Linked DNA regions of Homo sapiens: region 2 is linked to region 1. Evidence: fine-mapped expression QTL. A gene starts in region 1. The other region holds a variant in brackets. All regions are shown on one strand. Distances are from middle to middle.

Region 1 (5,365 bases):
GGTTCATAAATTCCTAGTAAATATTTCTATGCTATGTGAAAGTCAATCTGAAATCAGGTAACTATAATTTCTAAAAATATTTAGAAATCTTGTAATGTGATTAAATTCACACATCATTTGGGTAGAAGGGGGAAAAAAGACATGAGAGATGCCAAAATGTGAATGAGGGATCACTGGAGAAAACATTTCATGTAAAACTAGGAGAATTCATGTCCATCCTGCAACTGGCCTAACTGTGAGAAAGCCCTGCAGCTCAGATCCGTAGTGTGTGAGAGTTGTTGATTTCACCGTCAATTCATACATTTATTCGTCCAACACATATTTAGCGGGTACTCACTGTCTCCGGGCAATATGCTAGGAGCTAAAGATAAAAGAATGAGTTAAACAGACCAATACCTTCACAGAGATGTTCAGTGGGAGAAAAGCAAAATGATTAAGTGCTGAAAAGTTATGGGAGATCAAAGGGCATAAAAGAAGACCCCCCAATTAGTCCAGAAATTCAGCTACCAGGTGAGACGTCCAAAGGTCGCTAAGAAACCACTAAAGGATTTTAAATGTGTACACACGTTTCGCTTCTTGCTTCAGTCATCCCATGGGTGGTGTTATCACTTTCACGGCTGAGCTCCTAGTCAGAGGGCACTTTGAAGAAATAGCCAGGCCAAGTCGCTCTCAGCATAGGGGCATAATTTAACTCTTTTTAAATTTGCTTTAAGGGAAAGATGAAAAGAATGTCTTTTTAGACTAATTTCTTCGCCTCCCATTTACAAGAATAAATAAAACGACTTTTTTTTCAAATGTAAAAAAAAGTGGATAGCCTTTAACTGCAGTAGCATAGATGTATAAAGTTGAAGTGATACCACATAAGGTTTACAGGCAGTGAGGGCCCGGAAACAGATTTGTCATTCATTTTCTTGTTCATGATACACAATTATTCTTAAAAGTGTTGTGTGACAAACTCCTAGAAAGTATTGTCTAAATGTGCCCTCTCCCTATTACTATGTCACTAAGTTTGTAGAACTGCCTGATTCACTTACCAAAACTTTATCCTGCTGTAACTTTTTTGAACAATCCCTGTAATATTCTCCACTGCTTATTTTAAAGTAGCTGAGAATATAGCGTGCTGTTTATGGGCAACTAGTCATGGGGTAGAGGGTGAGATGATACCAGTGTTAGCCTGGGCAGGCCTGGGTGTGAATTCCATCCAGACACTTACTTAATATGTAAACTTGATTAAGTCTATTTGTTTATTTTTACACATTTCTACACTATATTTCTTCACTTATAAAATGGGTAAAAAATATCTGCCTCTTTGGATTTTTACGATTGACAAAAAAATGCAAGTAAAGTGCCTTGTATTGAGCTTCCCATGTAGAGACAGATACTCAAAAAATTTAAAAATCTCTTATTTGCTGCCTTTTCACAGGGGTATGTTAGGCACATACCTTTAATAAACGTTTCCAGTGAAAGGAGAAGGGGAGGCTGAGTTTTGGATGCCCAATGATTCTTCTCAAGATAATATCTTTAGTTTCAATTCTGTAGCGCTTTTGAAAAACTGATGCTTTGTGAAATATCAAATGAAGTAGTGCTCTGTAACATCTCCCAGAATTCTTCTCTCTTTTTAGCCTGGACTTGTCCCTCCATTACTTTGAAGACCCAAAGAGGACTGTTCCTTATTTTCTTCTATGCAGGTGGAGGATTTTTTTTTCTTGTACCCTCTGCTGACATCTCACTGATTTTCTATGTTAGAACTTTGAAAGAAAAAAAAAAAAAAAACGGCTTTGAAGGTCGAACTGCCTGGTGTTTGTTTAATAGTAGAAGCCACGTGTTTTGACACATCAAAGATTAAGAAAAGAGAAGGATTTTATTTCATAAATATCAAAGGGAAAACTTTCAGTTAATTGAATGGCAACTAGTCCCCTTTGTGCTCATTTCGGTTTCTGGCGATAAAGATGCTCAAACAGTGAGATCGCAACCAGTGAAGGAGGCGCTCTGAAGGACAGGAAAGGTTGGCTCTGCATGAGAAAGCCCTTTTAGATCCAGAAGAAGAATCACGCTTCCTTTCTTTTCCTGACCACAGCCTGTCCTGTAATTAGCGGAGCAAGTCAATCTGAGCGAGGCAAATCACTGGTTTTCCATGAAATAATTATATTTCTTATGCTCTTGGACATGTACACCTCTAAGCCTAAAAGCGGAGAAAGATGTTTTGGTTTTTTTTACGTGAGCTGGGGGAGGGAGAAGAAAAGTGGCAGCGACAGTGTAGCAAATGGGTGAAAGCAGCACAATGTGGCAAGAGGAGAGAACAGGATTCCGATTCCGTGGGGGCGTGGGAACACTGAGTTCCGCGCAGGGAGTTTCCCTGTTCAGAGCACCTTGTGCGCGAGTTGATAACTCTCGGAAAGGAAACAAAATTTGGCTTTCCTAAACTTTCTGTACGTCCAGAGAATCCCATGCCTTGTCTTGGCCTCCGCAGCGCCAGGCTGGGGTGACAGCACTCCTCCTCCACCGGCCCGGGCTTCTCCTCCGGACCGCGAGCCTGTGGCGCCTCCCCGCGCGCCCAGCGCACCGGGGTGTCCCCTTGGAGGAGCCTGCGGGGGCGGGGGAGGAGGGAAGGGCGCGACTCGTGGGTCGCGCTGGTTCCTTCACTGGATGGACGTCCGACGCTGCCTCCGGGGCGGAGACAGCTCCGGCCACCATGCGCCCGTTGCGGCGATTCCACCCACAGTTCGCTGGCTCTGGGGGTGGCGGGTCTTGGCGCGCGGTGCCTGCGCGAAGGGAGGGCAGCCATCGCCCCCGCGGTCACTGGGGCCCCGCGTTCCCCGCGGGCTCGGGCAGGTGCGCGGTGTGCCGGCCAGGTCCCCTTGTCCTCCTGCCCTGCGGCTTGGGCGCCGCGCCCGCCCCGCCCCCGCCCGCGGGCCGCCCTGGGCAGGGCCTGCCGCTGCGGCTGGAGAGCAGCGCACCGGCATGGGCAGGCGGCCGGCGGCGGAGGGCGGCTGAGGGCTGCTGAGGGTACGCGCAGCGGCCTCTCGTCGCCCTGCACGTGCCTCGCCAGGCAGTGCGCCTGCTCGCAGCGAGGACCTAGCCCTCTGGTTGCAGAGACCCGGTGCCGCAGCAGCGGCGGGTGGCTGTCGCTGCCCTGCCCTGCACGGGGCAGGGCGGAGCGGGCTGAGCAGCCCGGGCGCGATGCGTTGAGCGCTCGGAGGGCCAACCGCCGGTCCCCTTGGCGGCAACCGGCGGCACCCATGGAACCACTGGGCAACTGGAGGAGCCTGCGGGCGCCACTGCCTCCGATGCTGTTGCTGCTGCTCCTGCAGGTGGCGGGGCCCGTGGGCGCCCTGGCGGAGACCTTGCTGAACGCGCCGAGGGCCATGGGCACCAGTTCCAGCCCGCCTAGCCCTGCGAGCGTGGTGGCTCCCGGAACGACGCTGTTCGAGGAGAGCCGGCTGCCTGTGTTTACGCTGGATTACCCCCACGTGCAGATCCCCTTCGAGATCACCCTTTGGATCCTGCTGGCCTCCCTGGCCAAGATTGGTGAGCGAACTGGACTTGTGGGGAATGGGAGGGGGCGATCTCGGGGGGACACCTGGAGGGTGACCGGGTCAGCCAGCTGACCTCTAGATAGTGACCGCCTCATCTTGAATCAGGGCAGGGACGACAGATGGAGCAGCTTCTTCTGGTTGAAAAGGACCCTTGGAAGAGCAGTTTCGCGTTTTGGTTCTTAAGGGAACATTGGCCTTGAAATGGCCCCAAGTGTAAGTTCTACAAACTCAGCGATTGCTGCTTACTTCTGCCGCACGGAACGCCAAGTTTGTCAGCTCTCTGCTTAAGTTGAGTGAGATCTGTTTATTGAAGTGTACCAGTCTCACCTGCAGGGAGAGAGGTGCCGACGAACCCCGGAGCTATGCATAATGTGGTTAAAACCCTGGATGCTACAGGAGAGAGGCGCCTTGGCAGTGACACAGACCCTGCTGTGCGCCTGACTAATGAGGTGCATGGAAGGGGACCAGGGACACCTGAGTGCTTGCAGCTGCAATAGGAACGCCCTTTCTCCTCCCTCTATTGGGTTGAGGCTGTCACTCTCCAGGAAGCTTTTGCTTCGGGGTGGCTGAGGCCAGTGAGGTGAGATGCATATTTAAAAATAATTAACTCTGGGCCCAGGACAATGGCCCAGCCTGTAATCCCAGCACACTGGGAGGCCCAGACGTGAGGATCCCTTGAGGCCAGGAGTTCAAGATCATCATGGGCAACATAGCAAGACCAAACAGTACAAAAATAAAAAATTGGCCGGGCGAGGTGATTCACGCCTGTAATCCCAGCACTTTGGGAGGCTGAGGCAAGGTGGATCACGAGGATCACTGATCAACATGGTGAAACCTCGTCTCTACTAAAAATACAAAAAAATTAGCCGGGCGTGGTGGTGGGCGCCTGTAATCCCAGCTACTCGGGAGGCTGAGGGAGGGAATTGCTTGAACCCAGGAGGCGGAGGTTGCATTGAACCGAGATTGCCACTGCACTCCAGCCTGGGCAACAAAGCAAGACTCTGTCTCAAAAATTAATCAATCAATTAATTAATTAATTAGGTAGCCTGGTGTTGTGGTGCACATATGTATTCCCAGTTACTTGGAGGCTGAGGCGGGAGCCTGAGGGAGGAGGATCGCTTAAACTCAGGAGGTTGCGGTTGCAGTGAGCCATGAATGGCACCACTGCACTCCAGCCTGGGCCACAGAGAGATACCTTGTCTCAGGGAAAAAAAAAAAAAAAAAAAAATTACCCACTTTCATACTACCTTTAACTCTCATTTTGAAAGCAGAAACCTCAGAATATATTTTCTCATCTTCATTACCCACGCCCCAGAAACTTTCATGTTATGAGCATGGTGCTTTATATTATTTTTACTTTATATTTTAAAGACTTTAGAAAAATCCTGAAATATTAACTATTGTTATAATGATTCGATTAAGTTGTTAGGTCCAAAGAATGTATGCATTACATGTGTTTTACGTCTTTACCCTGTGAGATGAGGCAGATTTCCATAAAGAATGAAAAGACGCATTGTCTGCCATCCTCAGGGAGCTTACTGATGAGTGGAGAGACGTGTACACGCTGTGTGATTATTGCCCAGGACAGTGCTGAGTAGGGTGACAAACTCAGAAAAGATAGTATGCCATTGCAGGGAAGCAGAGAACACTTCCTCATGCAGAGCAAACATTTAAACTGGATTTTCCAGGATGACCAGGATCTGGTCAGTTAGAGAGAAAAGGGAGCAACATTCCAGAGAGGACTGAACAAAGACATAAATTGGGAGAGGAGTGCAAAGCAGGTAGAAGGGATGGTTTACAGGAGGGTGGAAGTTGTGGTAGGTAAACCG
Region 2 (5,383 bases), 29 kb before region 1:
CACTAGAAAGCATTCTCTCAACAGTCTAGAATGTATCTTTAACCAAAGTTGAAAGAAATATGAGATTATGCCATCTTAGATTTGCCACATGATTTTAAATTGCTTTTTTTTCGAGGCTTTCAATTGAAGCAATTGGACAAGTAGAAAGATTTAAAAAGTTTTTTTCTGGACATTTGGACATATGAAATATTTTCTCGGGATTAAGGGTAATCACACTTAAAATAATACTTACTTGTTACACTAACATTTTATCTTAATGATTCTCAACCTTCATTGTGGGTAGAAGAATCACTCACCTGGGGAGAGAGTAGAATGATGGTTACCAGAGTCTGGGAAGGATAGTGAGGGAGAGGGGGAAGTAGCGATGGTTAATGGATACAAAAACAATGGAAAGAATACGATCGAGTATTTGATAGCACAACAGGGTGACTTTAATCAGTAATAATTAAATTGTACATTTAAAAAAGCTAAAAAGGGCCGGGCGCAGTGGCTCATGCCTGTAATTCCAATACTTTGGGAGGCCGAGGCAGGCGGTTCACTTGAGTCCAGGAGTTCGAGACCAGCCTGGCCAACGTGGCGAAATCCCATCTCTACTAGAAATGCAAAAATTAGCTGGGTGTAGTGGCACATGCCTGTAATCCTAGCTATTCAGGAGGCTGAAGCAGCAGTATCACTTGAACCTGGGAGGTGGAGGCTACAGTGAGCCGAGATCATGCCACTGCACTCCAACCCGGGTGACGGAATGAGATTCTGTTTCAAAATAAATACATAAATAAATACATAAATAAATAAGTATAGCTGGATTGTTTGTAACACAAAGGATAAGTGCTGGAGGTGATAGCTACTCCATTAACCTTGATATGATTATGACACATTGCACATCTGTATCAAAATATCTCATGTAACCCACAAATATATACACTATGTAACCACAAAAAATAAAAATTAAAAAAAATTAAAAAGGATCACCTGGGGAATTTAAAAGCTCAGATGTCTATACACCCTTCCGCCTTTCTCCTTCAAGTGATCTAGTTGATCTGTGCTGGAGCCCAGGAATCTACATTTTTGAGAACTACATCAAGTGTTTGATCTTGGGTAAACCAGAGTGTTTCATTTAGACTGCAGCACTCTGTAACCAATTCTAGTGTAAAGGCTCTTTTTCTGGGCCGGACCTGCGCTGCGTGACCCAGCCTCTGTTTCTCCCCTTGCCTGCCCTGCTTCCTCCCCGAGGAGCTAAGCCCTGTTGTGCTTGTTTCCTTGGTGTCTAATTTAATCCCTGGTTATGATTTATGTCCTTTGGGCAGGTGCTAATCACATGGGAAACAAATTCTCCCTTGCTGAGGCTTCAATGCTCCCAGAATAAGCTTTATACCCTTAAGAAAATGATCCATCTGAAACTGTCATGTGGATTTGATTATCACACTTCACACAAAAAAAGGCACATCTAAAAAAGCAATGGTATGATTAAAGTGTTATAGAAGGTTTCATAGGAGGTAGAATAAATAGGTTAGAATCTGTATATCTGGAAAGTTGAAAATTCCCTAGAGGTAAAACCACGGAGACCGACCAGTAGAACCAGGTGGTGCCGTGGAGATCATGAAGTGCTGGCACCTCACTCCAGAGACATTGCAAACACGTAGGTAAGAGCAAAACCAGCCTGGCCTTCTCTTCTTAAAAAACTCAAAAGACCTATTCCAGATTGGAAGAGATAGTTTTGGGAAGATAAAAGCAATACATTGCCCAACAAATTATGGATTAAATATAGGCAACTTATTACTAGCAATAAATCACCTAAAAGATTTTAAGAATATTCTTGAGACTTTAATGTATGTTGCACACATGATGAAATAATTAAGAAAAAATAAATGTATTCAGACTCATCTCTAACATTTGAAAGAGACCAGGATTATGTCTTGCAAAGGGTTGTGTTTTTTTTTTGGTTTTTAATTGCTGATTTGCTAAAACCAGACTTTTCCTCTTGAAGTGGCTGGTAACACAAAGCCTCAGCACATCTGTAAAGCAGCATGCATCATAGAAGAAGCACAGTGTGGGGCTCTCTGGAAATTTCCAGTACAGTTGAGAGATAAAATACATCCATGAACAGAAAATAACACAACACAGCACAGCCAATAGAATGAGCTGTAGTTTGAGAGAGGAGCCCAACACCAGGAGAGGTCAATATTCTTGTTAGCTTCCAGTGATAAAAATTAGCCTCCAGAGCCACATTTTGAACAGTTTTGTGCCTCAGTTCACTATAAAATACATATGATGATGACAGGAGTCACACCTACTTCATAAGGCTAAGATTCGATGTTAAGATTTGATTAATGTATGTAAAATGCATGACATCCAGTATAACAGCATAATGAATAATGAGATCTTTGTTATCATTGTGCTTTTCCTTTTGAATTTTTTTTTACCACTCCACACACCTTTCTTTTAACTTTTGAACTCTTATTCA[C/T]GCCTCAAAACCTTACTCAAATCACACCTCTCTCAGGAAGCTGGCCTTGATTGCCCAATTTGGTTTTGAAGTACAAGACTATCAGCTTTGATCACATAGTTTTTGGCCACCTCCTCTACAGTCAATGCTCTTTGAGGACAGAGAGCAAGAATCGTCTGTGTCCCCAGGCCCTAACAGTGTGCTTAACACGTAGTAGGTACCAAGCACATATTTCTTCATTAAATGAAATGTCTTATCTTGAATAGGGAAGGTGGATTTTATACTAAATCTCAAAGTCCAGGCAGAATCTTAAAGGACAAAAATTGGAGGAGAACAAAGTCTGATGAGTGAAAAACTATGGTTTCCGCTTCTTTGGTAAAGTTGTGATTTCCTCCTCCTGCTAGTCCTTATTCTTCTGTTGGAAAATTTATTTCAGGAGTGCATTTTTGGTTTGGGTGTTGATGTCATGATTGTTACTCCCTCACCAAACTAATTTAAAGGGTCCCAACACAGAATTTCTACTTCATAGGTTACTATTGTCATGAAATCCAATAATGAATGTTTGGGAGCATCACCACCCCATATGAATTCTCTGCATAGCACTTTCGTCAATTCAACACTTAACTCCTTTTCTGTCTTATGCTTTGGATTTTGAGCCCCTTGAGTACAGAGACAGGATCTTATTCGCCACTAAATTGCACACCCAGAAGTGTGTAGTCAAAGTAGCTGCTGAGTAGATCCTGACTGATGGATTGAACGAATGGATGAATTGCTGGATAAGAGTGTATAATTTTATCAACAAAATAATTTATTTTCACTTCCCCAGCATGCCTTCTGCAAACACATATTTCTCTCTTTGATTAGTCTGCTTTCTATAGCTGGTTAACCAACTGTACACAAATATCTGCCTGCTGATATTGTCCTCCCAAATTTTGTTTCAGGTGGTTCCTCCTTCACTTCAAAAGCTGACTAAATACCCAATATTGTCTCTCCACCTTACGTCACACAATAATTAGATAAACCTCTATTATAGCAAAGATTGCACGTTGCTTGACTTTTTTTTTTTTTATCTTTCCTGAGGTCTTAAGGAACTCATGATTTTATTCCTGAGCTTTGAATGGACTCATTCTTGATCACATGTATGGCATAAACCTTTTCTATGTTGCTTCACTGATAATTTTAAATTATTAAACTAATATTTTTGGCATATTCAACATACCTGAATAATATCTTATATGTAGATATAATTGCATAATGTATTGTGAGACATTTAGATTCAATTATGTTCCAAATAATTGAATTCAAAAGTATTTGGAAAATAATGTATATTCAAATAAATCTATGTTCTTGTTCTATTTTCTGATTTTAATTTTTAAAAAGGATATTACACTCTGGAATTTTTCTTGACTTACAAATTGTCCTATAATTTTTTAAAATATGTTTTCCTCTTATAGCCTATAATATTAATATTAACAACACTGAGTATTATATTAATAGTGCTAGGTTGCTATTACTTAGAGTTTGAATGTTTTAAAGCTCTTATAACTGTTGTCAAATTATTTTTCAAACATTATCTGCCAGTTTATGTGCTTCTCAGCAATGGGTAGATTTACTAGTTTCATTTTTATATTTCCCAATATTAGGCACCATGATATACTTTTTAAAATAATTTAGTAGAGGAAATAACATTTATTTTTGCTTTCATTTGCAACCTTTCACTATAAATGAACAATTTTCATCTTGCTTATACATTTTTATTTTCTTTTAGGTAAATTATCTTTTTTATATACTTTGTCCATAATGTAGTCAACTAATTTAGCAATTTTGGGTCATTAAAAATAATCACCAGATTTCAATAAACTAAGTTTTTATAAGAATATTTTAAATTATACCAATTCTCATCATGCAGCTACTGTTTACCTAGCTTAAAGCTCATGTCAATTAAAAGAGTAGCCATTTCATTTAAGAAGGAAGTTGTAAAACTCAAATCATGGACCTATACTCGTTGTGATGAGAACCAGTGAATATGGTGGATATTAATGTCCCTGTATCAATCAGCACCTGCTATCAATTACAATCCAGGGCCGGGGAGGCCGGAGAGGTAGTTTCTGTTCTAGACTAAACCTAAGAGAAAGGGAGGCCACTTATCTCAGGTGAACACAAGGCTAATCAAACTCTGCTCTTTTCCCTATTTCACTTTTGTTTGCTTATTTAACCAGGCAAAAGTAGTTAACCACTCAGAGAAAACAGCTTCAACTCTGTTGACATAAAACTCATTTCACATGACCCACAGATAATTGTTGGCAGCCTTCAAAAGGGTACAAGCTCCTGCAACTACACCATTTCCTCAAATCCAACTGCAGTAGCAGCCCTGCTTTCAGTCCATGCAATTTTTTTAAAGAGCAAAATGACCTTTTATTTGTCAGGCACTTTCCAATCATTCATAAAATATCAGTTTTGGAGCCTAAGTTGATGACCACAGCTGAAGACATGCTAGAGCAATGGCGCTGTATCTTAGCTGCATATTGGACTCTTGTGGGAGCTTTAGAAGATATTGATGGCTACCTGTACCCCCACTTCCTTCAGGACTCTGATGTAATCGGCCTGGCATAAAGCCTAGGCATGGGGATTTGTAAAAGACCTCCTAAGCTAGGTTGAGAAACACTCACTGCTCTAGGGGAAGATAATGGATAGGGTTTGACTACTACCTGCTGCAGGTAGTTGCAATGATGAAAGATGAATGATAACACATATTAGTTTATTTCTCAAAGGAAAAGATTCATGAGGATGTTCTTGTCTATTTGTTTGTTTGAAGAAATGCCTGCAAAATATCTAGAAATATAGAATAGATTCAAATGATGCAAGTTAATCAGATTTAGGGGAGAAAAATAGTTCATGCTTGATACTTTACATAAATGCTGCTAAATTCTATTTGTGCATATC

What was found. PIP is the estimated chance that this variant, and not a neighbour inherited with it, causes the effect. A credible set is the group of variants that fine-mapping cannot tell apart.
Region 2: its variant is the best candidate, but not a certain one, in a credible set for the expression of SLC9A2 in lung (TOPMed, PIP 0.71).

The regions. Positions count from the first base shown.
Region 1 is chr2:102,616,610-102,621,974 of GRCh38, forward strand. SLC9A2 (solute carrier family 9 member A2) reads left to right here and starts at 2,944. Exons shown (of 12, transcript NM_003048.6): 1 at 2,944-3,528. The coding sequence starts at 3,240. RefSeq lists a silencer at 2,552-2,661.
Region 2 is chr2:102,587,148-102,592,530 of GRCh38, forward strand. No RefSeq gene overlaps it. Among named protein-coding and RNA genes, the nearest start is that of SLC9A2, 30 kb to the right of the region's middle. The variant C/T (reference allele first, on the strand shown) is at 2,462.